Linked DNA regions of Homo sapiens: regions 1, 3, 4, 5, 6 and 7 are each reported to be linked to region 2. The links are microRNA targets in miRTarBase. Many come from high-throughput screens and were not tested one by one. Region 2 holds a microRNA gene; each other region holds the end of a gene's coding sequence.
Evidence for each region. Region 2 holds the annotated microRNA hsa-miR-548x-5p (UGCAAAAGUAAUUGCAGUUUUUG, at 1,986-2,008, opposite strand). A microRNA usually pairs through its seed, bases 2 to 8, with sites in the 3' UTR of a target mRNA and lowers its output. Matches are read on the target gene's strand: a 7mer-m8 pairs with bases 2 to 8, a 7mer-A1 pairs with bases 2 to 7 and ends in A, and an 8mer does both.

Region 1 (4,069 bases), not on the chromosome of region 2:
CAGGAAGCTAATAAGTTCACAGCCTTATGTACCTGTGGAGTTTGCTGACTTCAGTGTTTACAATGCCAGCTTGGAGAACAGGGAATGGTTTTCCTCTAAAGTAGATCTGTCAAACTCACGGGTCTTGGAGAAAGAAGTGTCCCGTAGCCCTACCACCAGCAGTATTACCAGTGGCTACTTTTCCCACAGTGCCTCCAATGCCACCCTGTCTGACATGGTGGTCCCTTCTAGTGACAGCTCAGACCAGCTGGCCATTCAGACGAAGGATGCAGACTCCACCGAGCACTCCACACCATCGCTTGTGCATGATTTCAGGCCGTCCTCAAACAAAGAGTTGACAGAAGTCGAAAAAGGCTTGGTAAAGGACAAGATAATTGTGGTGCCACTCAAGGAAAACAGTGCCTTAGCCAAAGGGAGCCCATCATCCCAGAGCATCCCTGAGAAAAACTCCAAATCACTGTGCAGGACTGGCTCATGTTCAGAACTAGATGCCTGCCCCAGCAAAATTAGCCAGCCAGCCAGGGGATTCTGCCCCAGGGAGGTGACGGTAGAACACACCACCAACATCCTTGAAGACCATTCTTTCACAGAATTTATGGGAGTGTCAGAGGGAAAAGATTTTGATGGTTTGACAGATTCTTCTGCTGGAGAGCTTTCCAGTAGGAGGAGTCTACCAAATAAAACAGGCGGCAAGACTGTCTCCGATGGGCTCCACCACCCCAGCCAGCTGCATTCCAAGTTAGAGAATGACCAGGTAATAATTCCAGAGGCAGCCTTTTGGGTTCTGTGCTGTCAATGAGTATGTCTAACTGTATGTCAACCCCAGAGGCCCTTCACCGCAACAACTTGGTAGGAAAGATTCATCCAGTTGTTTGTGACAGCAAAGATGAGCCCACAGAGAAGCAGGCTCACTTCCTGCACAGCTGTCTCTGTCGGAGAGCAAGTCTGTTTTGGGAACTAGAACGCAATTGTGAAATTATAAGACCAGTGGATTTTTTTACCTGGCACATGGGTTGGTGTTGAATGAAGTGTTCAGATGGATAAGGATCAATCTCATATTCATTCCCTGGGATGTTTAGTTACCAGTTTTCCCAAAGTGTTCTGGTAGCATCTACCATATTTCATCAAATCTGTGATTCCTTTGATTATTATATGAACCATTATTTTATGTATCATTAAGAAAAAATACTGCCAATTAAACTCTGTCATATCAACAGTTGTAAGACACCCCAATTTCAGAGATGGTAAAGTGTGGAGAGAAAAACATATATATCATAGAATTGGAAATAGACAGTCGTTTGGTGCCCGTAGGTGAAAAAGTGCTTTGGGGCGGTATAGGCAAATTCCAGCAGCAGTTGAAGTTTGGACTTTGGAAGTAACTCAGTTTATAATACTGGTTAATTTTCTTTTTTCTTTTTTTTTTTTTTTTTTTTGAGATGGAGTGTGGCTCTCACTCTGTCACCCAGGCTGCAGTGCAGTGACACGATCTTGGCTCATTGCAGCCTCCACCTCCCTGGCTCACGTGATCCTCCTGCCTCAGCCTCCCGTGTAGCTGGGACTACAGGCACGTGCCAGCACATCTGGCTAATTTTTTTATATTTTCACCATGTTGGCCAGGCTGGTCTCAAACTTCTGACCTCAGGTGATCCATCCCCCTTGGCCTCCCAAAGTGTTGGGATTATAGGCATGAGCCACTGTGCCTGACTAATATTGGTTAATTTTCATACGGGAACAAAATGAGTTTTTGCCACTATTACTAAGGAAAATCACAAATTACATAAATAAGAGATGTTCTGCTTCTGAGCATTCTGCTCTGAAGTACCACCATTTATTCCCATTCACATTCATTTGTTTGGTCCCCCAACTTGCTGTAAAAGGCATGGGAGAGTCATGGCTTAGCAAAATAAAGAACTGACAGAGCTAGAAAGAGGCTTGGTAAAAGTAAAATAATCATGCTGCTACTCTATCCCTTTGTTTTGCGAGCAAGTTACTCCATTGATGTGGCTTTTGCCCCTGCTTTTCATAACAGCCCTTAAAATTTCAATGTATGGTCATTTATACAGCATACTCATTACTGAACTGCCAAAACCTAAACAGTCATCTCTGACAAGAAAAAGACTTCCTTCCCCGACATAAGAATAATGATAGAGTCACTCACCACCATTCTTGCAAGCAATACATGCATTTGTTTAGGTCTTCAACTTTCTTTACCTGGATTAAAGCAGAAGCTACACAGCTGGTATACATCAGCTTTTCAACCCTTGTTCGTCAAGAAGGCCAGTGTCAAAGACTCTTTAATTCTTTACTGTAAGATTAGGTTTGCTTCTCAAACCTAAAGGTGCTACAAACTCTAGGGGCAAGGAGGGTGTGGCAGGCCTCTTAAAAATTCATATTCATGGCCGAGTATGGTGGCTCATGCCTGTAATCCCAGCATTTTGGAAGGCCGAGGCAGGTGGATTGCCAGATGTCAGGAGTTCGAGACCAGCCTGGCTAAATGGTGAAACCCCATCTCTACTAAAAATACAAAAATTAGCCGGATATGGTGGCACATGCTTGTAGTCCCAGCTACTCGGGAGGCTGAGGCAGGAGAATCACCTGAACCCAGGAGGCGGAGGTTGCAGTGAGCCAAGATCGCACCACTGCACTCCAGCCTGGGCAACAGAGCAAGACTCCGTCTCAAAAAAAAAAAAAAAAATTCAAATTCACCTGGGCTTAGTGGCTTGCACCTGTAGTTCCAGCTATTCTGGAGGCTGAGGCGGGAAGATCACTTGAGCCCAAGAGCTCAAGACCAGTCTGGACAACAGAGCAAGATCCTATCTCTGTTTAAATAATTTTAAAAATTAAAATTTTTAAAAAATTCAAATTCCCAGGAGTCACTGCCATCCAGCCCTAAGATTTTGCTTTATACAGTGTGCAGCAGGGGAAATAAGGTATTCACAAACCCTTCCTTCCTCCCCATCCCCTCGCATCCCCATAGAGTAATAGGAGACAGGTTATCTGAGGGCCATACTGTGGGAAGCACTGCCCATAGAAGAGGGAAGAGGAGCAACAACCCCCTTCTTTTTTCATTGCCTAGATTATTTAGAACCCAACAGGAAAAGGTAAGGATTGGAAAGTTTCCAGAATAGTACGTTCCTCCCAAAGATCATGGTTTAAAGTGAAATTTACAAACATGTTATATCAAGATGATGGGATTATGGAGATTTTTCTCCTTTAAAGAGTTTTTAGCGGAGCGCAGTGGCTCACACCTGTAATCCCAACACTTTGGGAGGCTGAGGCGGGCGGATCACCTGAGGTCACAAGTTTGAGACCAGCCTGACCAACATGGAGAAACCCTGTCTCTACTGAAAACACAAAATTAGCCGGCAGTGGTGGCACATGACTATAATCCCAGCTACTCGGGAGGCTGAGGCAGGAGAATCGCTGGAACCCGGGAGGTGAAAGTTGCAGTGAGCTGAGATTGTGCCATTGCATTCCAGCCTGGGCAACAGGAGCTAAACTCTTGTCTCAAAAAAAAAAAATTTTGGCGGCCAGGCATAGTGGCTCACGCCCGTAGTCCTAGCACTTTGGGGAGACCAGAGCAGGAAGATCGCATGAACCCAGGAGTTTGACACCATCGTGGGCAACATAACGAGACTCTGTCTCTACAAAAATTTAAATGTTTTTTTATTTAATGTATCTGCTACATTGGTTTTAATAAGTTGTTTTGACAGTTTAAAATTTTTTCTGAGAACCATAAGTTTGACTTTGTTCAAACCCCTGAAATGACTTAGACTGCACATCCAGAAGTCACTTTTTTTCCTTAATTTTTACTTTGGTTGTTGCTGTCATTACTTTTCCTTGAAACATCACCTCAGGGCTTTTACAATGTGGATTCCAGCACTGGATTCCATAATAAAACCAATCCTGTGGGTCCCTTCAGGAAGAGCCCCTTTCTTGTGATGGGTGTGGACTGGGCTGAGAGTAGGTGCTGTGGGTGGGGTGGGGAGGTGGGGATGAGAAGCATGAACTCACCAGCCTCTGCATTCCAGGGAGGCACAACCTCACGGTGAGAGCAGCAAGCACCCCT
Region 2 (4,069 bases):
ATCAGGTTGTTTGTTACTTTTATTTTCAACCTGGATAGAATAGTATTTTTGCAAAATACAATTTAAGTAAATTAGCAGATAAATGAGACATGAAATACATAAACATTCAAGTACAAATTTTCATCAGATTCAACAGATTTAAAATTACTCTGTCAAATTACTATAAAAATTTCTAAATGCTTATTCTTAATTTCTTTACTTATATAATTGCAAACCAGTAAGTTTACAGACCTGCACTGGTTTGCAACCCAAACTTTGAATAAAGCTGTATTAGCCTATCCCAACTGATACAGTGTTACTGTAAGAGAAGTATGAAAATGTATTGGATAGATACTATGAGTTTCCAATTGCTGCTGTAGCCAATCACCACAAACATATTGTCTTAAAACAATACAATGTATTATCTTACAGTTCTGAAGGTTAAAAGTCCAAAATGAGTCTTGGGAGACTAAAATCATGGTGTTAGCAGGGTTGCATTTCTTCTGGAGCCTGCAGGAGAATCTGTTTCCTTGTCTTTTCCAGCTTCTAGAGGCCATCTGCATTCCTTGGCTTGTGGCTGTTCCTCCAACTTCAAAGCCCATCACCTCAGCCTCTGCTTATGTCGTCACACCTGCTTTTCTGACTTTAACTCTACTACCTCCCTCTTGTAAGGATCATTGTGATTACATTGGGATCACCCATCTAATCCAGGCTAATCTCTTTATCTCAAGACCTTTCACGTAATCACATCTGCAAAGTTTTGCCATCTAAGGTAACATATTCACAGGTTCTGGGGATAAGGATGTGGACTTCTCTGGGAGCCATTATTCAGTTTATCATAGATAGCTAAGCTAAACTAGGAGTCAGCCATTTAAGTAGATCCCTGTGGATACTTAGGAATTAGGAGATGGAGAAATGGGGGAAGTATCCCAGGCAGAGTCTTACAAATAGGAAGATCTGGAGGTGAGGAAGATTATGGCTTTTTTAGAGGAATGAACTTTTGAGTGTGGTTAGAGGATAGATACGAGAGAGAGAGATCAGCAAGGGACAAATCATGAAGGGTTTTGTAAACCATATTAAACAACTTGAACTCTTAAAGAGCAAAGGGAAGACATCAAAGGGTATTCAGTATAAAAGCAACAATTATCAATTTGTATTTTGGAATTGCATATAGAAGAGCCAGATTGGAGGCACAAAACTATGATGCTGATGAACCACGGTGGTGTCACCTAATTCACAGCATGTCTGAAACCCAAATCCATTATTTCCCACAAAAGCCAGCACATTCTCCATCTTCCCTATTGTTTTCTTCTAGGATTCAATTCTTAACATTATTTTTAGCCTCTTTCTTTCTTTGGCTTCTTACTCTAGTCAGTCACCACACCTTATTGGTTCTTGAAAATTTTTTAAAGACATAATATATGGTTACATGAATACATCCAAAATAATAAACAATATGGAAATAAGTCCCTTTTCATCCCTTCTCTGACCCCTAACAATCCAACTCTCATCTTCATATGCAACCTGATTCATTATCAATATGTATTATCCTGTGCCTTTTATTATGCATTTACATTTATTATGTACATGCATATATCTACTGCATTGTTTTAAAAGCATTTGCATTAAAAAGCATAATTATCTTGTCTATTTTCAGCTCGCAATATAACTTAGATATTTTCCATGTCAATATATTTATTTTAAATGCCTCATTTTAAAATTGAACATCGGTATTGCTCTCTTTTCCAGCTTCGAGAGCTTCTAACTCTAATAGATTCTAACAGTTTCTAACTTTAGACTATTACAAACTTTATCTTATAACTTATTTTTCAAATCTTTCTCTTTTGAAATTTTTATTAAGGCTTTCTCTTAGCCAGCATTTTTAAAGGTAGAAGTAGTCTTCTCTTTAAAAATATCAAAATACACAATGCCAAGAAAATAAACAGTGATCTTAAATATTAGGTTGGTGTAAAAGTAATTGCAGTTTTTACCATTAAAAGTAATAGCAAAAACTGCAATTACTTTTGCACCAACCTAATACCTTTTTCCAAACTGAGAGCTCTGTGAAAATTCACAGTGGACATTAAAGACTCTGAGAAGTTCTGTAGAAAAAAAAATATTTAACTTGGTTTAACTCTACATATCCAAATTTTTTGTTGAACTACATCACTTGATATGGTTTGGCTGTGTCCCCACCCTAATCTCTTGAATTGTAGCTCCCACAATCCCCACGTGTTGTGGGAGGGACCTGGTGGGAGGTAATTGAATCATGGAATCATGGGGACGGGTTTTCCCATACTGTTCTGGTGATAGTGAATAAGTCTCACGAGATATGATGGTTTAATAAAGGGCAGTTACCCTGCACTCGCTCTTTTGCCTGCCACCATGTAAGACGTGCCTTTGTTCCTCCTTTGCCTTCCACCATGATTGTGAGGACCCCCACCCCAGCCATATGGAAATGTGAGTCCATTAAAGCTCTTTTTTTTTAAATAAATTACCCAGTTTCAGGTATTTCTTCATAGCAGTATGAAAATGGACTAATACAGCACTGTTAACAATTCCATATAATATCTAATAACATCTCATGGGATACTGTTGTTCCATGAAGTCACTGTGTGGCCTCAAATGTAGTGGTTACAAGCAGGGTCCCTGAAACCAAACTATTCTGAATTACTTACCAGTTGACCTTGGGCAAGTTACTTAACATCTCTGTGCCTCAGTTTTCTCATCTATAAAATAGGAATAATAGCAATTTGTTTCATTAGGAAGTCATAAGGATTAGTTGAATAAGTGTTAGTGGTTATTATTTGGAGCATTCTGAGGATACTGCTCTTGAAGTATTGGTATGAAGTTGATGGCACTGTTAGCCTCTCTACTGTTATTTGAAGAATCCATATCATTGTGAAATTAAAAAAAAAATCTTGACTATGGCACTCCCATATAATGTACCACACAGAATTGCCCGTGTGAGAAGAAACAGCTCTGTTGCAAAGAAATTCCTGTAATTCCATAGCATCTCTCTTTGAGTCATTCAGTTTGGGGTTCGTTGTAAAAGTACTACTTTTTTCTCTATCCACAGCATGACAGTTCTTACCTTTTGACAGTCTTGTGGACTGCTGTGCTTGTGGTAATCCAATCACAGCTGCTTTGCAGGATGACTGCTCCTCTATTTGAAAGGCATCCTCAAGGGTATTTTGCGTATGTGATTTAGCTTGTATTCTAAGCATCCTAAACATCTCTGTAAGTGTGCTGAAAATTCATCTAATTTGTATTGTCACATGGTGACAGTCAAACAGGAAATTAACTTTATTTCTATTAATTTCATCCTAAGAGCACTCTCAGAAACATTCTATATTTAAAGCTGCATTTCAAGTACACAGTAATGAGATATATTCAGATATACCCTTTCCTTTGATTCAAATATCGGCCCCTATTATTTTTAGGTGTGTGTTACTCAAAATAGATGCTTTTTAAACTTATGTCCCTTTGTGATGCTATGAGAGTATTTGACTACCACATCTTTTTGATAATCAGAAGTTAATGACTTGTCCAAAGTTATCTATGCTGAAAGGCAATAGAATGACATACAAAGCATCTTGCCATCTTTCTAAACAGCTTAGCATAGTTCAACAAAGTTACTGGCCACAGAGGGAAAAATCTACATCTATATTTAAAGAGAGAGATCTGTTTAAGTTAGGAATTGAACAATAAAAGAAAAATGAATTTCACCCTCCTAATCTGACTAGTGTTTACTAGCCCCATTTAACTAAAAGAATGAGGATCAATTACTCATTTTTTTCTCTACTTGATTAAAATGTGTAATGGGTAAGGGATTCTCCAGGTGAGGTATGAAATCGCTGAAAAGAGACACACAGTGATGATATATCCTCAGGTGAAGTCATTGCAGTCCAGATGCTGGTCTTCAGTGCAAAGGCTGAAAAATTTGATTTGGTTAGCACACAGCAAACAGATCTGACATGGGTTCAAACTAAACCAAATATGGAGAACTCCATAGACAGGACCAGAACATTCACTCCTGAAGGGAGAGCTCTATGGGAAGCCAACTTATAATCAAAAGTGTCTGGAAGGA
Region 3 (4,059 bases), not on the chromosome of region 2:
TTTTGACGTAAGTAGTGATTACCCTTTAGTTTAAATGCTTAATCTGTTATTATTTGTATACTTCTTGGTATATGTAGAAATAATTTTCAAAATGAACACTTTTGCCAGGCACAGTGGCTCACACCTGTAATCCCAGCACCGTGGAAGGTCGAAGCAGGAGTATTGCTTGAGCCCAGGAGTTCAAGACAGCCTGGATAACAGTAAGACCCTGTCTCTACAAAAATATAAACAAAATTAGTCAGGTGTGGTGGAGCACATCTGTGGTCACAGCTGCTCAGGAAGCTGAGGTGAGAGGACTGCTTGAGCCTGTGAGGTTGACGCTGCAGTCAGCTGAGATCACGCCACTGCTCTCCAGCCTGGGGCAACAGAGTGAGATCGTCTCAAAAGAAACAAACAAACAAAAAACACTTTTGAAGACATAAGGTAGGTTAAAAAAATCCTTTGTAATTAGAAAATGTGTCACTTTTTTAGCTAAGAGCAATATAATCATCTCACCCTAATGACTAGACTAGGAGCCTCACCTCTGGCCTGGACAACAGTCTTTAACACGAATTTTCATCATTACCATCATCACCACTGACATTTAGCAGGCAGGACTATTTGCCAGGCACTGGGCTGCGTGTGTTGCACATGTCATTTCCTCTAATTATCACCATAAGCCTCTGTGGTAGCTACCAGTATTGCCTCCCACATTTTGGCAGAGAAAGCTAAATCACGGCAAGCAGTGTCCAGGATCCAGGACTTGAACTCCCGTAGTCTGACTGCAGAGTGTGCTCTTCACCCACATGTGCCACAGTCCTGGGGAGGCAGCATGGGCTGGTGGGGACAGGAAAGAGGGACAACCCGGGTTCCCACCCTACCTCTTCCTCTAACTGGTTGTAAGACCTTGAGCAAGTCATGTCATCCCCGTGGCCTTGGTGTCCTTGCCGATAAAAAGCAAGGGTTCGTCCAGACAGTTGTTTTGAAACTCTGCCCGAAGGGCCTGGGAGCTGGAGGGAACACCTTGAGAATCAGGCAGGAGAAGCAGCCTTCCTTCTTTTGTATCACAGAATTTTTATCTGTCCAAAATTCATGTTGAAACTTAACTGGCAATTTAAAAGTATTATGAGGTGGGGCTTTCAGAGGGTGATAAGTCATGGGAACAGAGCCCTCATCAATTCAATTAGATGTCTTTATTAAAGGGCTTGACAGAGGCAGTTTGTGCCTTCTTGCCCTTCTGCTCTGTGAGGACACGGCATTCAAGAAGCCATCTTAAAAGCAGAAAGCAGCCCTCACCAGACAACTAAACCTGCTAGCCCCTTGATCTTGGACTCTCGGCCTCCAGAACTGTAAGAAAATGAATTTCTGTTCTTTGTAAATTACCCAGTCTGAGGTATTTTGTTACAGCAGCACAAAAAAACTAAAACACAGAGTGACCTTTTCTATAGGATTTGAACAAATGGTTCTGACCATCTGACTGCTCATCAACTTCTGAGGTTCCTCTGTTCTAATGATTCTACTGAATCACAGAATCATTAGAATGAGTCTATGAATAGCCTATGATTGTATTATCCATCCCATTATCAAGCTCCTAATTAGGTATGGACTATATTCATCTAACCACAGAAATCGTCATTACAGACAAATGTTCATTTCTCTAACTTTTCTAGAATAAATCTCAGCTTTTATAATGATACCCAGATATCCTAAATTTTACCATATGATAAATTCCATTTAGAAACTATTTTCCCCCCATAAAGCAACATTCTTCTGTATAATACTAATCTTTCCTTACTTTCCACTTAATTTTAGTAATGTTCAGCACAGAACCTGATACACAGTAAAGGCACTCAAGTGACTGCTGAATCTGAGTAACAGTAAACTCAATCCTCAAAGATTTAAAAATCAAAGTGTCAGACAAAAATTTAACTTTTTATGAGATTTCAGTTTTTGAAATACACAACTCTTACAGCACAAACACAGTATTTACATTTCAAGTTCTTTGTACAAAAGATGTATGCCATTTTGGAAGAATATTGTTGAGATCATGATCTAAAATACCTGTCAGAGTTACTCATGGAATCTGCTCTTCACAAATCCATTGTATTATGACATAAAATATGGCTAGACGCCAAGGTTTAACCATACATAAAAATACTAATTCTCGGCTGGGTGCACTGGCTTATGCCTGTAATCTCAGCACTTTGGGAGGCAGAGGCAGGTGGATCACCTGAGGTCAGGAGTTCAAGATAAGCCTGACCAATATGGTGGAACCCCCGTCTCTACTAAAAATACAAAAATTAGCAGGGTGTGGTGGCATGCACCTGTAGTCCCAGCTACTCAGAAGGCTGAGACAGAACTGCTTGAACCCGGGAGGCGGAGGTTGCAGTGAGCTGAGATTGCGCCACTGCACTCCAGCCTGGGCAACAGAGAGAGACTCTGTCTCAAAAACAACAACAACAACAACAACAAAAACTAATTCTCAGTGATTGGCAAATGATGGCCTGAGGGTCACATCTGGCTGGTGGGCAGTTTTTGTACAGCTGCAAGCTAAACATGGTTTTTACATTTTTAGAGGGTTGTTTGAAAAAAAACAAACTAAACAACAGCAAGAAGAATGTATGACAAAGACACAGGTGGCCTGCAATAATTTACTAACCAGCCTTTTACAAAGAAAGTTTGCTGGCCTCTGTTCTATCAAAAACCAACTGAGAGAGATAGCTACTGGAATATACCAATGAGTATTAAACAAGACACCACTGTAATGTGCCAGTGCCATCAGCACTACTCATTTCTAAAATGAGGCACTTCTGTTTGAATATGTACATTTCCAAAACATAATTACATCTGGTAAGTAGTACTAACTCTAGCCCTTTGAAATTAGACCTGCACGTGAAATCATAGCATTCTTAGGGGCTGAAGTCAATAATTACAAAGCATTTCAGATGTCAATCATTGAGCTCTTCAGTAGTTAGTGGTTTAAGACCATTTACAGTCTTAAATATTAATAAAACTCATAATTTAGGTATTGTCAATAAGAGGTGATATTGCTGCATTATTTAAATAACATCTATAAAAATAGGTTTAGACATCCCAATTCGTTATACTCAGAAGCAAGAATAACTAGTTAACTTAGTAACTACTTAAAAATGGGAAATGAAAAAAAAAAAGTGCAAAACTTTAGCAAAAGGCTTTGGAATGCAAAGACTGGAGCCTCTTAGCAATCACTCCCAGCTGGCATAGGCTTCTCCTAATAAAGTTAGTCTGCAATGATTGCTGTGGGAAATTAACAGCTGTCTCTTGTCAGTGAGCCTTTTTATAAAAAGGATGACAGGTCCATGAGCAAATTCTTTAAAAGTAAAATCAGTTCAGAGCTGCTCAACACACAAGTTTTCAGTGGGTTGGTTAAATAATTCCTGGTCAGTGGGCTATATTCATGCCACAAAACAGCATGGTACTGGATATTTTCCTTCTTCGGGCCAAACTGCTAAGCATCACATCACAAAGACATCTCTGTGAAGCTGAGTTTTAAAATGCTCAGTAAATGCTGAGGTAGATGGTTTTCAAATGAAGATCTTCTATACTCTGATTCGATTGGGACTAGCTTCTTTGTGTATCCTCCTTCTGGGAAATATCTTCCGCTTAAGTGCAATTAACTAAATGATGAAAGACAGAAAATACATTTTAATTCTCACGTTGATGAAAGAATATAAGTGCATCAAACTTTCTAAGAGCCATATGACCTTAATCATTTCCACAATCTTATACATTAAAAAGACAACAAACAAATCTCCATCATTCCTCTTCCAAAACAAAAACAAATATTAGTTTTGTTTAGCTTTGTAGGGACAGTATGCCTAGATATGTGCCCACAAAGAGACCCAAGAGGATTAAAATTATTTCGGCCCATGCTTCATTTTTCTAAGACCTACAACTACAGATTTTTACACAGCTATTACCAAAGCATATTTATTTTCAAGATGTCCATTTGTCAAGTCTTTCTATTGAAGGAAACTGGCTCTATTTAGCCATAAGACACTGTCTCTGGGTTGATATGATGGCTTATTCCTTCATCTGTAG
Region 4 (4,069 bases), not on the chromosome of region 2:
TAGAAGACAGCCAAGTTACCTAGCAGCCTGAAAGACTACTTTATGTGGATAATTATAGGATGATATTGCCAGTTGAAGTATTAGTTGTTCTTAAAATTAGTCTAATTAATAGAAGGCTATTATTGATAAAAAGGGCCCCCGACTATACCATTCCGAAGATAGACATGATATAGCTAAAAAGACTTGGGAAATGTGATACCTACAGTACCACATATTTAGAGTCCAACTCATTAAATATATTGATCTTTAGTGACTTAAATGCTAACAATAGTCAAACACAGGCATAATGTGAATATTTAAATTTAATGTAGTTCTTCCCTATTTAACAGTTTTCTGTAACTCCTATTTAGCCTACCAATTACCCTGTGAAAGTTATCCTCCCCCCTTTTTTACAGATGAGAAAGCAGGCTGAGAGATCAAATAACTCAAGGTGACTCAGAAAATAATTCAAGGTGACTCCTCCTTTTAAAACTAAATATGTAATGGATAATATGCAACTGATTTCTTGTGAAATATAACATTTATGTTTTTAGATTTTCTTTGCCTTTAACTCAAGCTAAGTCCAGTTTAAACCTGTACTTTTTGTAATTAGCCAAATCAAATGATCATAATTCAAAGATGCTAAAACAGAATGCTACATAGTGATGCTGAGAAATACTGTCAATTAGCCAGCAAACAGTAATCTGAATTTGCGCAGGATGATCATTCTAATTTAGATATAATGGAAAGATTTTAGATAAAATAGAAAACTTTTTAAAGAAATTCAACTATATCCTAAAACTTGACCTGGTCAAACTTATTCCATATTATATTCAGTTGCTCTAATATACAGCAGGTTGATACTAAAATAATGACAGAATTTGGCTGGTCTAAACATACAAATATATTTTCCCCCTTTTCTTTCTTTGGGAAAATAAGAAAAAAAACATTACTCTGTTTACTCAGAAAGCAAGGAGAGCAGCACCTTCTCCTGGACTCCGTGACTGTCAGCCATCTTGTCATCACAAAAAGGTGAGGGGTGCCAGGATTTCACTATGCTGCTCCTTCACTGGAAAGGGAAGGAAATGCTCCAGCTGTTTTAATCAGTGACATTTATTAACATGCTTCAAAAGTGACCAAAGTGTCCAGCCAGCACAATAGCCGAGGCAATCAACGTTCTCTTAGTGTGTGATCTCCTCCAAAACACCAAATAAATAGGTTTAGGAATAACCTCAAATAAATTGTAATTTAACTTCGCCCAAAATTATACATCCTCTACTGCTCTTCCCTGCTCCTGTAAAGATACTAGCGGGAGGGGAGAAAGCTCAAATGACTCTGTAATTTAGAATTACAACCAGAGAAGAAATACTTCAAGCACAATAAAGACGTTCCATTGAAGAGCGACATTCATTCTGGAATGTTTGTTTTGAAAACAACTCTTCTGGGGGAATTCAAAAGGTACTGAACAAAGCAACATAAAGTAAGTTTTGGGTTGTTTTGCAAAATAAAAATATACAATTGAGTGGACCAGATGGCAAAAACATACCAATTACAATCTGAATGCTATATTTAAAACCCTTAAATTCTGAAGGCCTGAATATCAACAAACCTATTTATGTTTATGATCCTAAAAAGACATTAAATATTATTAAACCCCCAACTTCCAAAACATAGAGACCCAGCAAACTGGGCTAGTGGTATCTCAGTACACAGTCACACATGACTAGACTAGACTAGACTAGACTAGACTAGAGATCTGAGTTTGCAACCAAGTACAAGAGGTCTTTAGGAGCTCAGGCTAAGGGAGGCACTTTATTCAAATGCATGGCCTGAGAGAAGAGGGAAAGTACCTTGTAATCTTAAACTATGTGGTCCATCATATATTCTACCTCAAAGACAATCTAGACTACGGTATCTCCTCTTAAACTGCCAGTTCAGAACAAAATATACTTTATTTGGAAGCTAAATATTTGCTTCACTCAAGTGAAGAATAATTTAGCAGCGACAGAGAACACAACTCCTGTTTTAACCATGGGAAAGAGAAGAGAGAGTGGTAAGTATCTCGCTGGGGAAATCAAAAGATTTCTGGGTCTGTCTGGGTGTATCATATTATGAGCTTGATTCTTCAACCGTCACTCCATTTGGTAGTCAGGGAGAAAGTAAGTGTAGCTGCAAGGGGAAATGGAAAGAACTACCCTGCCCTTCTGCACCCCCAGCCAGGCCCACTAGCTGCGGTGCTGTGCACAACTCCAGTTCCAATGCTTCCCTCCACAGTGGAGGCATATCCAGGGCTGAACCAGATGCACGCCCACAGTGTGTTTCTGGCTCAGAGCCTGTCAGGAAATTCATGTCTGGGAAGAAACTAAGTGTTCTGGTGATGGCTACAGTCAGTAGATCTACCAGCAATTTGTCCCTTTTTTTGTTTCAGATTTTAAGGCAGAAACTCAATCTCAGCAGCTAATTTCATCCAATTTTCTTCAGAAACATTCTCCAATTTAGTTGAGTACGCAAGAAAAGTGTGTGAACATTCACTCCTGTCCTCCCCACATACATATATAGACATACAATAAGAAACATACATACATATATACCCTAGATTGTCAATGTATGCTGCTGAAATGCCTGAAAGGTTACTTTTCACTTAAAAATAAAATTTGATGAATTATTCTGCAAGTATGGATTTGGCCCTAGCAAATTTTTATAAATATAGTTTGAGAGGACAGCAACAAAGGTTTTAACTAGAAGCTGTCTTGAGGGTTTTCCTGATAGATATTGTTAATATGTATGTTATTTAAAACAGGCATATCCTTATGGATTATAAAAATAGAAATGTATATATTTGTTAATACATATTCACAGCTTATGCTGGAATGGCTCACAGGAGAAATCATGGTTCATGCAGAGAATAAACATTACTCAAGTAAATAAAAATAAGATTAGGTCCATAAAGGCTGAGAACTTATAGTCAGTAATCAGCTCATTTGGTTTCTCTTTGTAGGGCAATCAAAAACATGAAAGGTGGTGACACATAAAACACACACAGACATACAATTACATGAATTACATGGAAAGAATATAAATTAACCAATAAAGCAATGTGGAGTTAAGGTGCAAAAATACAATCTTCATCGATTTTCTCTACTCCTGTGTTTTCAAGCATCACAACATGTTAAATGTCATGGGTGGCAATACCAACCCAGACAGGTCTGAATGTTTGTAGATTTTCTAAGTGTTGAAAGTTAAAGCAAGATCCTTTGAGATCTACGATCACACATTTTGGTAGAAATTGCAGATTTACAGAGATGACTACTGAGCAGTAGGTAGTAAATGGAGCCAAGAAGTACACTCTTGCCCATCCATCTTCCATGGGAATCAGAATATTGGCTTCAATCACTGACTCATCTTTATATAATCTTCACCCTGAAAAATAAAAGTTACCAATGTAAGAATGTTTTTAGAGTCAATAAAGTTTGATTAATCTGTTTTAAGATGCATAAATTTTTTTTTTCAGTTTAGTATCTTCAGTAAGGCTAATTTTTAAAAATACAGACTAAAAAAAAGCTGATTTGGCTTTTTTCCATTAATTTAATTTAGATGAAGCCAAATGTTTTAATTTTTAAACATTTCAGTAGCTTTTGGGGTAGAAGTGGTTTTTGGTTACGTGGGTGAATTGTATAGTGGTGGAGTCTGATATTTTAGTGCACTTGTCAACCTAGATGAAGACAAATGTTATCTAATAAAAGTTATCAAAAAGCCGATTTCTTCAATTTTGTAAAAAATACTGAAAACATAAGAAGTTTGTTCTAGATGGGCGTGGTAGCTCACACCTGTAATCCTAGCACTTTGGGAGGCCAAGGCGGGTGAATTACCTGAAGTCAGGAGTTCAAGACCAGCCTGGCCAACATGGTGAAACCCTGTCTCTACTAAAAATACAAAAAATTAGCCGGGTGCAGTGCCATACACTTGTAACCCCAGCTACTTGGGAGGCTGAGGCAGGAGAATCGCTTGAACCTGGGAGGCAGAGGTTGCAGTGAGCCAAGATCGTGCCACTGCACTCCAGCCTGGGTGACAGAGCGAGACTTCTTCTCAA
Region 5 (4,069 bases), not on the chromosome of region 2:
TTGGGAGGCTGAGGCAGGAGGATCAGTTGAGCCCAGGAGTTATTATGATGGCACCACTGCACTGCATCCTGGGTGACAAAGCAAGACGCTATCTCTAATAATAACATATCCAGATACTTTTACCAGTTGTTGTTACTATAAATTAGGTAATTCAAATTTTCCTAAAATTATATTAATAGTTTTTGCTGTTTTACAGAGTAAGCCATATCAAAGACTTCATTGAAAAATACCAAGGATCTCAAAGAAGTCCTCCGTTTTCCCTGGCAACAGCTCTTCCTGTCCTCAGGTTGCTAGATGAGACACTCACACTGGAAGAAGCAGATTTACAGAATGCTGTCATCATTCAGAGACTCCAAAAAACTGCATCTTTTAGAGAACTTTCAGAGCACTGATTTTTGATAGACTAAGTGGAAAATTTGCAGAGAAATGATGGTTGTAAGTGGACATGCAAACCAAAATTGGGGATTGGAGAAGTCAGACTCACTAGACTTTTGGTTCGAGTACTATTGAACTCTCTCCTGATGAGAAGATGTTTAGATAAGTACAAGTTAAGAAAGTAGCATATGACTGGAAACTATATTCAGTGCACTTTCTCCAAAAGACTACCCAGAAAAATAGACTTATTTTCAAATACCAGTTATCAAGATATATTAAATAGCTGTATTGTTTAGAATCTTAATATGGTATAAATTAGCATATGTATTCACAATATTCATTCAGACATCATTCCCAGACAGCAGGGATTTATTTAAATGTTAGCTGTCTGAGTTTTTAAATAGCTAATACGACCGGGTACAGTGGTTCATGCCTGTAATCCCAGAACTTCGGGAGGCCGAGACAGGCAGATCACGAGGTCAACAGATTGAGACCATCCTGGCAAACATGGTGAAACCCCATCTCTAGTAAAAATACAAAAATTAGCTGGGCGTGGCGGTGCGCAACTGTAGTCCCAGCTACTCGGGAGGCTGAGGCAGGAGAATCTCTTGAACCTGGCAAGTGTAGGTTGCAGTGAGCTGAGATTGAGCAACTGTACTCCAGCTTGGCGACAGAGCAAGACCCCCTCTCAAAAATAAATAAAATAAAGTAAAATAAATATAAATAATTGTGGCCGGGTGCAATGGCTCATGCCTGTAATCCCAGCACTTTGGGAGGCTGAGATGGGAGGATCACTTGAAGCCAGGAGTTTAAAACCAGAATGATCAACAGAGTGAGACCCCTGTCTATATATTTTTTTAATTTAAAAAATAAAAGAATAAAATTGTGTAGCTCAGTATAGTATCAAGATTAATCTGCCTACTCACATTTCTACACTTTATAAAAATGTAATAAAAGAAAATTATCTTTCTAAAAAGCCTATTCCCTTTCCATTTTATTTTCTTTCAAAAATTATGGATTTGTTTTTGGCTAACATTTGGGATTAGCCATTCATTTGCCACCACTCACTTAGAATATAATGCCGGTGTGTGTCACATTACTAGTATTTTTTAAATGCATCATATAAAGTATGGTTTTCTGTTTCTTTTTCGTTTGTTTGAGATGGAGTTTCGCTCTTGTTGCCCAGGCTGGAGTGCAGTGGCGCAATCTCAGCTCACCACAACCTCCACCTCCCGGGTTCAAGAGATTCTCCTGCTCAGCCTCCCAAGTAGCTGGGATTACAGGCATGCGCCACCATGCTTGGCTAATTTTGCATTTTTAGTAGACACGGGATTTCACCATGTTGGTCAGGCTGGTCTCGAACTCCCGACCTCAGGGGATCTGCCTGCCTAGGCCTCCTGAAGTGCTGGGATTACAAGTGTGAACCACCGTGCCCAGCTGGTTTTCTGTTTCATACATCAGAGTCAACTTGTGAATACATTTAAAGATTATTTCATTTTGATATCACGAAGAAAAACAGGCTTTATATCTCAGACTTTAACTAAATCCAGTTAGACCTCAATTTTTCACTGTCAGATTAAATCCCCATACCTGAAAATAAGTTTAACATTTTTTTTTGCAAATGATCTATTGAATCAGATTTAAAATGAAGCATGCATTGAGTGTGCCAAGGAACTAAGTGGTCCATAGCAGCAGTAATGTTCATAGGGTGCGAGATGCCTGCTATGAAACAGCAACTCTCAAACATTTTTATCTCAAGACCATTTGTTTATGTGAGCTATATATATTATTATATTAAATATTAAATTTTTAAAATATTTATTTATGGGCCAGGCACGGTGGCTTACGCCTGTAATCCCAGCACTTTGGGAGGCTGAGGCAGGCGGATCACAAGGTCAAGTGATTGAGACCATCCTGTCCAACATGGTGAATCCCCGTCTCTACTAAAAATACAAAAAAAATTAGCTGGGTGTGGTGGCATGCGCCTGTAGTCCCAGCTACGTGGGAGGCTGAGGGAGGAGAATGGCTTGAACCCGGGAGGTGGAGGTTTCAGTGAGCCGAGATTGCGCCCCTGCACTCCAGCCTGGTGACGGAGCGAGACTCTTTCTCAAAAAAAAAAAATTATTCATTTAAAAATAACTTCTGGCTGGACATGGTGTCTCACGCCTGTAATCCTAGCACTTTGGGAGGCCAAGACAGGTGGATCACTTGAGCCCAGGAGTTTGAGACCAGCCTGGGCAACAAGGCAAAACTCTATCTATAAAAATTACAAAAATTAGTGCAGTAGCTCACACCTGTAATCCCAGCACTTTGGGACACTAAAGCGGGCAGATCACCTGAGGTCAGGAGTTCGAGACCAGCCTGGTCAATGTGGTGAAACCATGTCTGTACTAAAAATACAAAAATTAGCCTGGTGTGGTGGCACATGCCTGTAATCTCAGCTACTAGGGAGGCTGAGGGAGGAGAATTGCTTGAACTCAGGAGGCAGAGGTTGCAGTGAGCCGAGATTGCGCCACTGCACTCTAGCTTAGGCAACAGAGTAAGACCCTGCCGTAATAATAATAACTTTTTTTTTTTTGAGATAGAGTTTTGCTCTTTCCCCCAGACTAGAGTGCAATGGCGCGATCTTGGCTCACTGCAACTTGTCCCCCCGGGTTCAAGCGATTCTTCTGCCACAGCCTCCCGAGTAGCTGGGATTATAGGCGCCCACTACCACGCCTGGCTAATTTTTGTATTTTTAGTAGAGACGGGGTTTCGCCATGTTGGCCTGGCTGGCCTCTAACTCGTAACCTCAGGTGATCCGCCCGCCTTGGCCTCCCAAAGTGCTAGGATTATAGGCGTGAGCCACTGTGCCCAGCCAATAATAACTTATAAAACATGAAACGATTTAGTGAGAAAAGTGGCCGGTTTTTTGGGGGGAATTACTTTCTGTCATAAAGAAGATAGATGGGTTCTCATGTCTTCTACATTCAGTCTGTTGTGCAGTCACATATCATGTAGACTCTGGAAAACACCTCTGTATACTGGTGAAAGAATGAAAAGAAGCAAATAATGCCTTAGTATGATTATGAAAAACGTTTTGACTTCACAGTGCCCTGAATGGGTCTTGGGAATCTCCAGGGATCCCTCAGGCACACTTTGAGAACCAATCTATATAAAGTGATGGTTCACAATGATTCTGAAGCCTTAGTTTCAGAATCATTTGGGGCAGCTTTTCAAAAATGCCATTCCTGCCACCTACCACAAAGATTCTGATTCACTGTATCTGTGATGGGTCTCAGATCTCTGCATTTTTAATCTCACGTGATTCTTAAGTATGTGGTGGAAGTACCTTTCTTCAGGAAATTCTGTCCTAAGCTTTTACCCTGAGAAAATAAAACCTGCATGCTTTCACCATGGACGGTGGGAGACTCCACTGAAACACATCTGCTAGACCACTAAGTTTATCCTTGTCACCCAGTTTGCTCTTGGAAAGAGTCTGTTCCCTTTTGTCACTGAACCAATCATGACATAAACTTGTGCTTTACCTCCTATAGCACAGCCGAGACAAGGCTGGAACATTTAATTAAGGTTTTTACTAAGGACTCAGGAATAACAACAGGGAAATATCTATGTAACTAGATGACCTGACATAAAATCTATCTTCTGATTGCAGTCTATTGTGAGAATGCTGCTTTTCCTAGCTCCCAGCCTT
Region 6 (4,069 bases), not on the chromosome of region 2:
AGTTAAACAAGCAGTAGCTGTTTCTAAGCCCATGTCATTTTTTGGTATCTACTGACCATTCCTTGTTTCTGTATGCATGTGCAGGCATGCATGTCTACATAGGCACACGCTTGAGTCATCACACACGGACAGTCTTGCACCTGCATATACTCTTGCACAGTTCTGTTGTACATACCTTATGGCTATTTGCAGAAAATTGCCCAGTTCCAATCTAATTTTTTCTTACCAATTATGTGTTAAAGTAGAATTGCTGACTTTCATAAGCATTTTGAGAACTTTCAATGTTTTATGAAACTTTTACTGTATTCCTTTTGAAAGTTAATACCAAGTAGTTTAGTTCAGAGGGAGACACTCTGGATGGGCCAGTAACCTAAATCCTGCGGCCTTGCATTGGCAAGTGTGGACTGTGAATAAAGGTGTCCCCTCTGCAGGGTGGTACTTGAATCCCACCACAAGGGTTTTTCAGGGCAAGGATAGTACTCTCCGGCCATTCTGTTTCCCTGTACCTGCAGCTGGTACTGAGAGCAGTGACAAGAGGGTAGCATCCATCTGTGCAATAGTTTTGTGTCTGTAATTTTGGTTCAATTTATTTTTCTCCTTAGGCAACCAGCCACAGCAAGGAGTGACTCCGTATGGGCATCCTTCACACTTCTGAATCTGCAAGAGGAGAAGACATGACGTTTTATGTTTGCACTGAAAAACAGAAAATCAAATTTAATGCATTAGTCATCTTAAAAATGTCCCTTTTTTTCATTTCTTTGACATTTTACTATATTTTATGCTACATCTCACAAAAAAAAAAAAAGGTGTTTAAACAAAAAGCCAAGGAGAAGTTGTGGTTTGATTTTGTTGAATTCACCTTTAAAGTAGGTTTACAAATGTGAATCATGCAGGCAGGCCTACTCCCGGAAGAGTGTGCTAGCAGACCTTTTGAAATTGGTGCTTTTTTTGAATCTCACATTTCTAGAAAGAATGGATTATGATGGATCTAAGGTATTTATGTATTTCATTCATTAATGATGACGTTGTTTTTTTTTTTTTAATTTTATTTTCCAAACTGTGCTGGACCAAACTACTGATTTGAAAGGCATGTCAGATCTTGACAGAAACATGGCCTGTTTATTCTGCATTCACCTGTGATGGTGAAACGGACATTTATTTGCATCGCTCTAATTTGAAATGTTTGTAATCTCATAAGCACTTTATAAACTTTGTTCTTATTTATGTAGGACTCTTCTTTGCTTTTGTTGTGGTCAAAAGGTGCTGAAACAGATTGTTGCTTCGTACTTAAACTTCTTAAACCAAGAACCTAAACCAAGGTTTCTTTGAGAGCCGCCCTAAGATGTGCGGAAACCTGTTAGAAGTAGCTGTACTCAAATTTGTTTTGAGGCAAGATCATTGATGAGAGTCATTGTGAAGGTACAACATGTAAATCCTAAAGGCCTGAAAGAACTGCAGTGGAATCGTCCAACTATTTATTGCCAGTTTTGGTTCTCCTGAACCTTATGCCACCTTAAGGGGAAAAAAAAATCCAGTAGCTGGCTTGAGATTCCAGTGCTCACACTTGACATGGTTTCCAGAGAATCTGGCCCCAAAGTCCAGAAGGCTCTGGTTTTCATAAAAGGTGTATTTGCTGTTTATTTTGTATGGTAAGTATTTGCTCTTTTGAATTTAATTATTACTGTCAGTGTCAGTCTTGGTTGTGTATTGCATATACTGTATTTATAAATTGGTGCAAAAAGCACAAGTAAATTATACATCAAATTTATTATAAAGAAATAGTAACTATTTTAACTTTGTTCAAGTATGTGGTAATTTGCTCCTATTAGAGTAAAAAAGAAACCAGTAAATTATCAGTTTGTGTAACTTAAGAGTATTCTATATAATATTTTTTTAGATTTAGATGCATAAAATTTTGAATGTGAAAATTGCAGGGCATTTTAAAACATATGTGGGGGATATTTTCCCATGTTCTCTGTTATTTCATTTTCTTTTGCCATATGATTTTACATATAATATAGTCAAGCATACTGTGAATAGACTTGTCTATAATGAGCAGACCATGTAAATCTACTTTTTTTAAAATGTAGCTAGTACAACTTTAGTAGACATTTTCTTTTGCAAATCATTATCTATAAATAATTTATATCTTCCTGGGTGAGTTACTCATTGCAAAGTTTGACTCATGCAAATGACCTCAAATACATGTCAGCTTACTTTGCTGTGGCAACATCCATGTGAACTGCTTTGTACACTGTGAAAATATTTCACTCCAGCCTGCCCATTTTGTGTTTACTCTGGGCTGGAAAAGACTTTGCCAAAACATTAAAAACTATTCTTTTCACTAAATTAATAGTCTATCTGCTTTCAGAAGATGTATCATCTATCTGTACACATTTTTGCTGGTTTTGTATATCAGATTTTTTCCTCTCAAGAAACATACTTAGATAAGCTAATGAAGTTGTTTTCTTCAAAGTAATATATCTATATAATGACTGCATTGGCAAATCAACCGAAATGTGAATGTTGTGCCTAGTGAGTGAGTCATGTTCCATCATTATTTCTTTCCAAATTTCTTTGCCAGTTCAGTTTGAACCATATATTTTGTAGCTCAGCATTGCAAACAACAGTAATACTGTTTTAAGAATGAGTGTTATAATTGCATAGCATTTGTATGCACTTTATACTTTGCAGAGGTGAGTTAAATTATTAATCATTTTGCACATGAAAGCTGTGGGGCATATCTTTTTTCTTTTTTTAGGTGAGGAAGTTATGCTACGACTCTAATTAATTCCACGATTCTATTGAAAGTTGAGGAATGCTGTTTTACCCCTGCGCATTATAAAGAAAATAACTAGAATTACTTTAGTCTTCAGATTTTCTCCCTGTTAATTCTGTATCTTGAGAGGTTTCTTTTTTTTTTTTTTTTTTTTCTTTTCTTGCAAATGCATTCTTTTGCATTAAGATGGTCACAAGGTAAAGCCCTGTGGCAGAACCTGGTACTTTACCTTACCAGAGGAAATTACCTTAGAATAAGATGGAGCGAGACCCCAGCTCCCCTTAAAGACAAGACCTTGAAATCAAATGGAGTCAGCTATACCTATCAATCAATCACAGTTCTTGGATATAAGAAGCCCATAGACTCTCTTGTTTACACTGTAGGCTTTTTCTTAATAGGGTTGCATTTGTCAGTCATTGCATTTACCCTTCTTGGCCTGGAAGTAGAGGAGATCAATGCGTAGCTTTGACCACTTCCAGCCACAGGGTACTAACATCAGACATAAGTTGCAACCAGGTCACATTTTAGGCTGAGATGGGGCTAACTGAAAGTCAGTGTGATGAAAACCCAAGGGCGCTATTCCACATGTCTCAAATGATTGGCAGGGGCTAACTTATTAGTAATTCTCGGTTTTGTGCACTGAGATATCTAAGACCTATGGCATTTTTTTCCCATTTATAAAGCTCCTATAATTCTTAAGTAAGTACTAGGTGAATGTTTGAATAGATGCTGGAGAAATTACACTGGAAAACCCCACCCCTAGATTTAGATAAGATCAATCATTTAATATTCCCCAAATTAATTCAGGTTGAATTAAGCATGTAATATAAATTCAGTGAATTACAAAAACACATTTTGTGTAGGATTGATCAGATTTTAAATACAGTGAAACTTCATTATATATAATAGACCTAGACCCTCCCAAGCATTTTCCCATCCCATAAAGAATTAATGAAATGAAATGCTTATAGAGCAACGATTCCTGCTCAGAAAAATTTCCTTATAAACAGCTCCAAACCAGGGGTGCCTGAGCTAGATTTTAAAGTTATAAAGAAGTTTCATTGTATTTTTAAAACCTTTTTAATGGGTGTATTTGGACAAAAATAACCCCCTTTTCACATTTTATGATGTGCAGGTATTACATTGCTTTTTACATGTGGAAAAGTGAGCCTGCATTTATTTTTAAATGCAGTTATTAAAACATTTTTGTATTCCCCATCAATGAAAATTTTCAGTGTGAACAAATGGTGAATCATAAGACAGTTCAGTGCTTATTTTCTGTAGGTTTTA
Region 7 (4,057 bases), not on the chromosome of region 2:
TCATCAAAGTTTTTAATGATATGAAAGTAAGGAAATCTTCTACACAAGAGGAGATCAAAAAGAGAAAGAAAGCAGTTCTCTTCTGTTTAAGCGATGACAAAAGACAAATAATTGTAGAGGAAGCAAAGCAGATCTTGGTGGGTGACATTGGTGATACTGTAGAGGACCCCTACACATCTTTTGTGAAGTTGCTACCTCTGAATGATTGCCGATATGCTTTGTACGATGCCACATACGAAACAAAAGAGTCTAAGAAAGAAGACCTAGTATTTATATTCTGGTGTGTAAAAACAAAAGAAAAAAGTACTTTTAAAATGCAAGGATTATTATTATCATAGTCAGTCTTACCTTTGTTTTTCTTATAAATGGGATTCAATAATTTTTTTTTTTTCTGTAGGGCTCCTGAAAGTGCACCTTTAAAAAGCAAGATGATTTATGCTAGCTCTAAAGATGCCATTAAAAAGAAATTTACAGGTACAAACTTGAATATTTGGGGCAGAGAAATTATTCTTTATTAATTATAATAAAGTAATAGGATAATGTTTTTTCTTTTTAGGTATTAAACATGAGTGGCAAGTAAATGGCTTGGATGATATTAAGGACCGTTCGACACTTGGAGAGAAATTGGGAGGCAATGTAGTAGTTTCACTTGAAGGAAAACCATTATAAAATGACAGTCAAGTGCCATCTGGATCTTAAGGAGCTTCCATTTCTCCAGCTCAGTCCATTGGAATAGTATTAGGTTTTGGTTTTTTGTTGTATTTCCCCCTTTCCACTGGGCCCTTCCAACACAATGAATGAAGGAAATATCATTTATTTAAGCAGCCTATCAGTGATTGCCATTAGACTGTTGAATACTGTTACTTTTATATAGAACCCAAGGAATGCCTTCCTGTCATATTTTAGCCAAAACAACTGGTTATATGCCTCCCTTGCAGCAAGCACTACAATGTATGTGATCGTCAATGTGAATAGCTTAGAATACTGCAAAGGATAAGCTAATTGAATGCCTTGAAAGTATTATCCACTGGTCAGATGGTCAACTTTTTTCAGTATTATTTATAGTTGGCACTTGATTGCAGTTCTGTGAGGCTTGAGCATTCATACACCTCACCTGCCTTGGCAAGCCTATTTTAGTGATATGGCAGCACGGATATAACACTATGCATTAAAAGCACTTTTTGTAATAAGTTTAATATCCTAAAAGGAATGCCAATTAAGTTTTGTTAACTGTGTCATCAACTTATCCTAGTACCTCAGTGTTCATTCCTGTTACCTGCATATCTTCTTAAAAGAAATAGCTGTTATTAATGCCTTTTTGTTTTCCATTGAGTGTACACTACTGAATAAGTGTAGGAGTTTTATGTTTACCATGTGAGTCCTGCAACACTAAAGATATTTTGAATATCAGTCATGATGGCAATTTCTGTATAAAAGAGCCTTAAATGGAACATTGTTTTGAGATCAAACTCCCCACCCTCACAAAAATGGCCACGTTGCAATAAAAATTGTGGCATATTACAGAACGTTGCCTTGTTTTCCTTGGAAATTTTGCAAAATGTTATGTGAAACAACTTCTAGGGTAAAAACAGCTATTACTAATCTCTGCACTGGTCATTTGAGAATTTTTTTTGTACAGCATTCATGTGTGATATTTTCCAGATTTGTTGGATCTATTTGGTTTAAAAAGTATTCTATCTTAAGGCCAACTAATATAAAATACCATTGTTAAAGAATGGTACTTTTATAAACATTAGTGTATTTATTTCCTATGTGTTAATATGAAGATCAGAAATTATTTTTTGCACTTTGGCATAAATACTTTTCAATATCTGATTTGTTCTCTGGATAAATTAGCATAGTTATTTTTTTATTCACATTTACATTTCTAAGTAGTTGTATAGTAGAAGCAGGAAGCTCTTATTGCTTATTTGGTCGTAATGAAAATAATTTGTAAAATGTCCTTTAAAAGTTTAATGATACTTCTGATGTTTCGGAACAGTCATTTCACCTACTATTTCTGAATATATTTTGCAAATTGAATTGGAATAGGAATTGATAATAGCAGTCTTAAACATTAGTAGTGGGATTTGGCTATGGTCCAGACTGTGCTCCTTATAGAGAATTTGATCTGCTCAGTGTGAGCGGTTTGCTGTTAGCCAGGGCTATTTATGGCAAACACATGCTTTTGTATCTTGTCATAGTTATCCACAAATGGCAAAACTGGACTTGATTCTACTGGTATGCAAAACAGGCATGCTAGTAAGCAGTCAGTCGTGGCTCAGAACTTAACCCCATAGCTCAGAGGAATGCTTTTAGCAGAAAACAGGAAAGAAAATATCCCTTAAAAATTTTTTTTGAATGTGTGGAAGTAATTTTAGTATAATTAGATTTTTTCCATATTTTTGAAAGATTTTTCAGATGTGAACATTAAAAATAGGGATTAAATGTCTAGGCTTCCATTTAAAATTATATGAATGGTTTGGGATCTTTTTGCACTGAGCAATTTTATTTCAGGCTTCCAGCTGTCCCTGTGAGTTATCCTGGACATTTCGATGGTTTTTGGTAAGGCCAAACTCTGATAAGCAAAACAGAGAATACTGACGTATACTTAACCATATGTGTAACTGATACTTGGCACCATGGAATTTTTCATTGAGTTATTTCCTCATTCTTTTAAAAAATAAGGGACTATAAATCAGTTATGTAGTATCTTTTGTTTTTGTAGCTGATTCCTTAACTTTCTTGTATGCCTCTAGTAATTTCAGAGATTAAATATTGCTTTAAACTGTGATACTTTGATTTGCTAGATTGACAAAACTGATACTAATATAATTAAGTTCATCTTTGAAATACATCTTTGTGCGTAGAGCCAAAAAAAGAGATAAAATTAATAATAGTTCACTTGTTATTTGAGATTAATTTGGCATTTGAAATGATCATTTTATTTTACAATCATTTATAATGAATCAATGTTCCAGTTAGCTTTAAAAGGTATACGGTGCTAATTAGTAAAATATTGAAGGCAATATTTTACTGCTAGCTTGCAAAGTTATGAGAGTTTAAAAAATAAAATATATGAAAATATGTAAAGCTGTTGAGATGTGTTTACTTATACTTCAGAACATTAAAAGTTTAAAAACTGGTATTTCAGATCAAAGAGGCATCATTATCTTTATTCTGTTTTTCAGGATTTTAGTTGGTAATACTTTCTCATTTATCAATAACAATTTTCTTTAAAAACTGAGTGTTACAGCAATTAATTTTAGCATTTTCAGACAAATGGGAACAGTTGGCATGTGTCCCAAACTGGCTATCAGCTGTTGTTTTCCATCATTATCTAAAATAGTGTGGCCAGCATTGTGTATTGAAATGTGCCTTTTTCGTACATTGGAAGAGAAGCCTCTTACTGGGTTTGAGTTTCTCTGATACAGAACATTTGTAGCAGCTAATTTATGGAATCTGGCAAATAAGCTTTGGGAGGAAATTCTTTTAAAAGTGTTTTCTTGTTAAGGAATAATCTCAACAATGGTAAATCATCAAGAGGTTGAGAAGACTCTTAGGTTTGCCACTCAGAAAAAACAGTCTCATTTTGCTCTTCATAGGTCCTGTTTTTGCTTGCACATTTAATAGTAGGTGGAGATGCAAAACAACGTGAATGTTCATTTTTTTATGAATAGTATTAAAGCTACTAGAGGTGGGCAGGCAGGTCCCAGTAAATGTTGCCTTTTTTTTTTTTTTTTTTTGAGACAGGGTCTCACTCTGTTGCCCAGGCTGGAGTGCAGTGTCAAAATTTCAGCTCACTTCAAACTCAACCTTCCCAGCTCAGATGATCCTCCCACCTCAGCCTCCCAAGTAGCTGGGACTACAGGCATGCACCACCATGCCTAATTTTTTTTTTTTTTTTTTTTGTATCTCTTTTGTAGAGACTGAGTTTGGCCATGTTGCCTAGGCTGATCTCCAACTCCTGGGCTCAAGCTGTCCTCTGACCTCCGCCTCCCAAAAGTGCTAGGATTGCATGCATGAGCCACCACTTCAAAAGCTCAAATACTGCTTT

Region 1: the mRNA of KIF13A is a reported target of hsa-miR-548x-5p. The part of its 3' UTR that is shown has no 7-base or 8-base seed match.
Region 3: miRTarBase lists GNPTAB as a target of hsa-miR-548x-5p. Seed matches in the 3' UTR shown: 7mer-m8 at 3,163-3,169 and 7mer-A1 at 3,151-3,157.
Region 4: miRTarBase lists CREBL2 as a target of hsa-miR-548x-5p. Seed matches in the 3' UTR shown: 7mer-A1 at 3,089-3,095 and 7mer-A1 at 1,478-1,484.
Region 5: the mRNA of UBXN2A is a reported target of hsa-miR-548x-5p. Seed matches in the 3' UTR shown: 7mer-A1 at 1,683-1,689 and 7mer-A1 at 1,989-1,995.
Region 6: the mRNA of MED12L is a reported target of hsa-miR-548x-5p. Seed matches in the 3' UTR shown: 7mer-m8 at 1,991-1,997, 8mer at 2,116-2,123, 7mer-A1 at 2,717-2,723 and 8mer at 2,953-2,960.
Region 7: the mRNA of CFL2 is a reported target of hsa-miR-548x-5p. Seed matches in the 3' UTR shown: 7mer-A1 at 1,550-1,556, 7mer-A1 at 1,801-1,807, 7mer-A1 at 2,030-2,036 and 7mer-A1 at 2,492-2,498.

The regions. Positions count from the first base shown.
Region 1 is chr6:17,760,840-17,764,908 of GRCh38, reverse strand. It overlaps KIF13A (kinesin family member 13A), which reads left to right. Exons shown (of 39, transcript NM_022113.6): 39 at 1-1,216. The coding sequence ends at 799. Among named protein-coding and RNA genes, the nearest start is that of NUP153-AS1, 56 kb to the right of the region's middle.
Region 2 is chrX:38,021,964-38,026,032 of GRCh38, forward strand. MIR548AJ2 (microRNA 548aj-2) reads right to left here and starts at 2,023; the gene lies at 1,932-2,023. The region is part of intron 1 of SYTL5 (synaptotagmin like 5); the gene reads left to right.
Region 3 is chr12:101,743,607-101,747,665 of GRCh38, forward strand. GNPTAB (N-acetylglucosamine-1-phosphate transferase subunits alpha and beta) reads right to left here. Exons shown (of 21, transcript NM_024312.5): 21 at 1,893-3,635. The coding sequence ends at 3,558. LOC124902997 (a long non-coding RNA gene) reads left to right here and starts at 384. Exons shown (of 2, transcript XR_007063424.1): 1 at 384-423; 2 at 1,182-1,361. RefSeq lists enhancers at 152-241, 362-471.
Region 4 is chr12:12,641,324-12,645,392 of GRCh38, reverse strand. It overlaps CREBL2 (cAMP responsive element binding protein like 2), which reads right to left. Exons shown (of 4, transcript NM_001310.4): 4 at 285-3,399. The coding sequence ends at 3,395. Among named protein-coding and RNA genes, the nearest start is that of CREBL2, 31 kb to the right of the region's middle. RefSeq lists an enhancer at 882-2,081.
Region 5 is chr2:23,999,476-24,003,544 of GRCh38, forward strand. It overlaps UBXN2A (UBX domain protein 2A), which reads left to right. Exons shown (of 7, transcript NM_181713.4): 7 at 197-4,069. The coding sequence ends at 392. Among named protein-coding and RNA genes, the nearest start is that of MFSD2B, 8.6 kb to the right of the region's middle.
Region 6 is chr3:151,432,150-151,436,218 of GRCh38, forward strand. MED12L (mediator complex subunit 12L) reads left to right here. Exons shown (of 45, transcript NM_001393769.1): 45 at 603-4,069. The coding sequence ends at 655. It overlaps IGSF10 (immunoglobulin superfamily member 10), which reads right to left. Exons shown (of 8, transcript NM_178822.5): 8 at 4,054-4,069. Among named protein-coding and RNA genes, the nearest start is that of IGSF10, 27 kb to the right of the region's middle.
Region 7 is chr14:34,709,477-34,713,533 of GRCh38, reverse strand. It overlaps CFL2 (cofilin 2), which reads left to right. Exons shown (of 4, transcript NM_138638.5): 2 at 1-280; 3 at 398-474; 4 at 557-4,057. The coding sequence ends at 669. Among named protein-coding and RNA genes, the nearest start is that of CFL2, 3.1 kb to the left of the region's middle.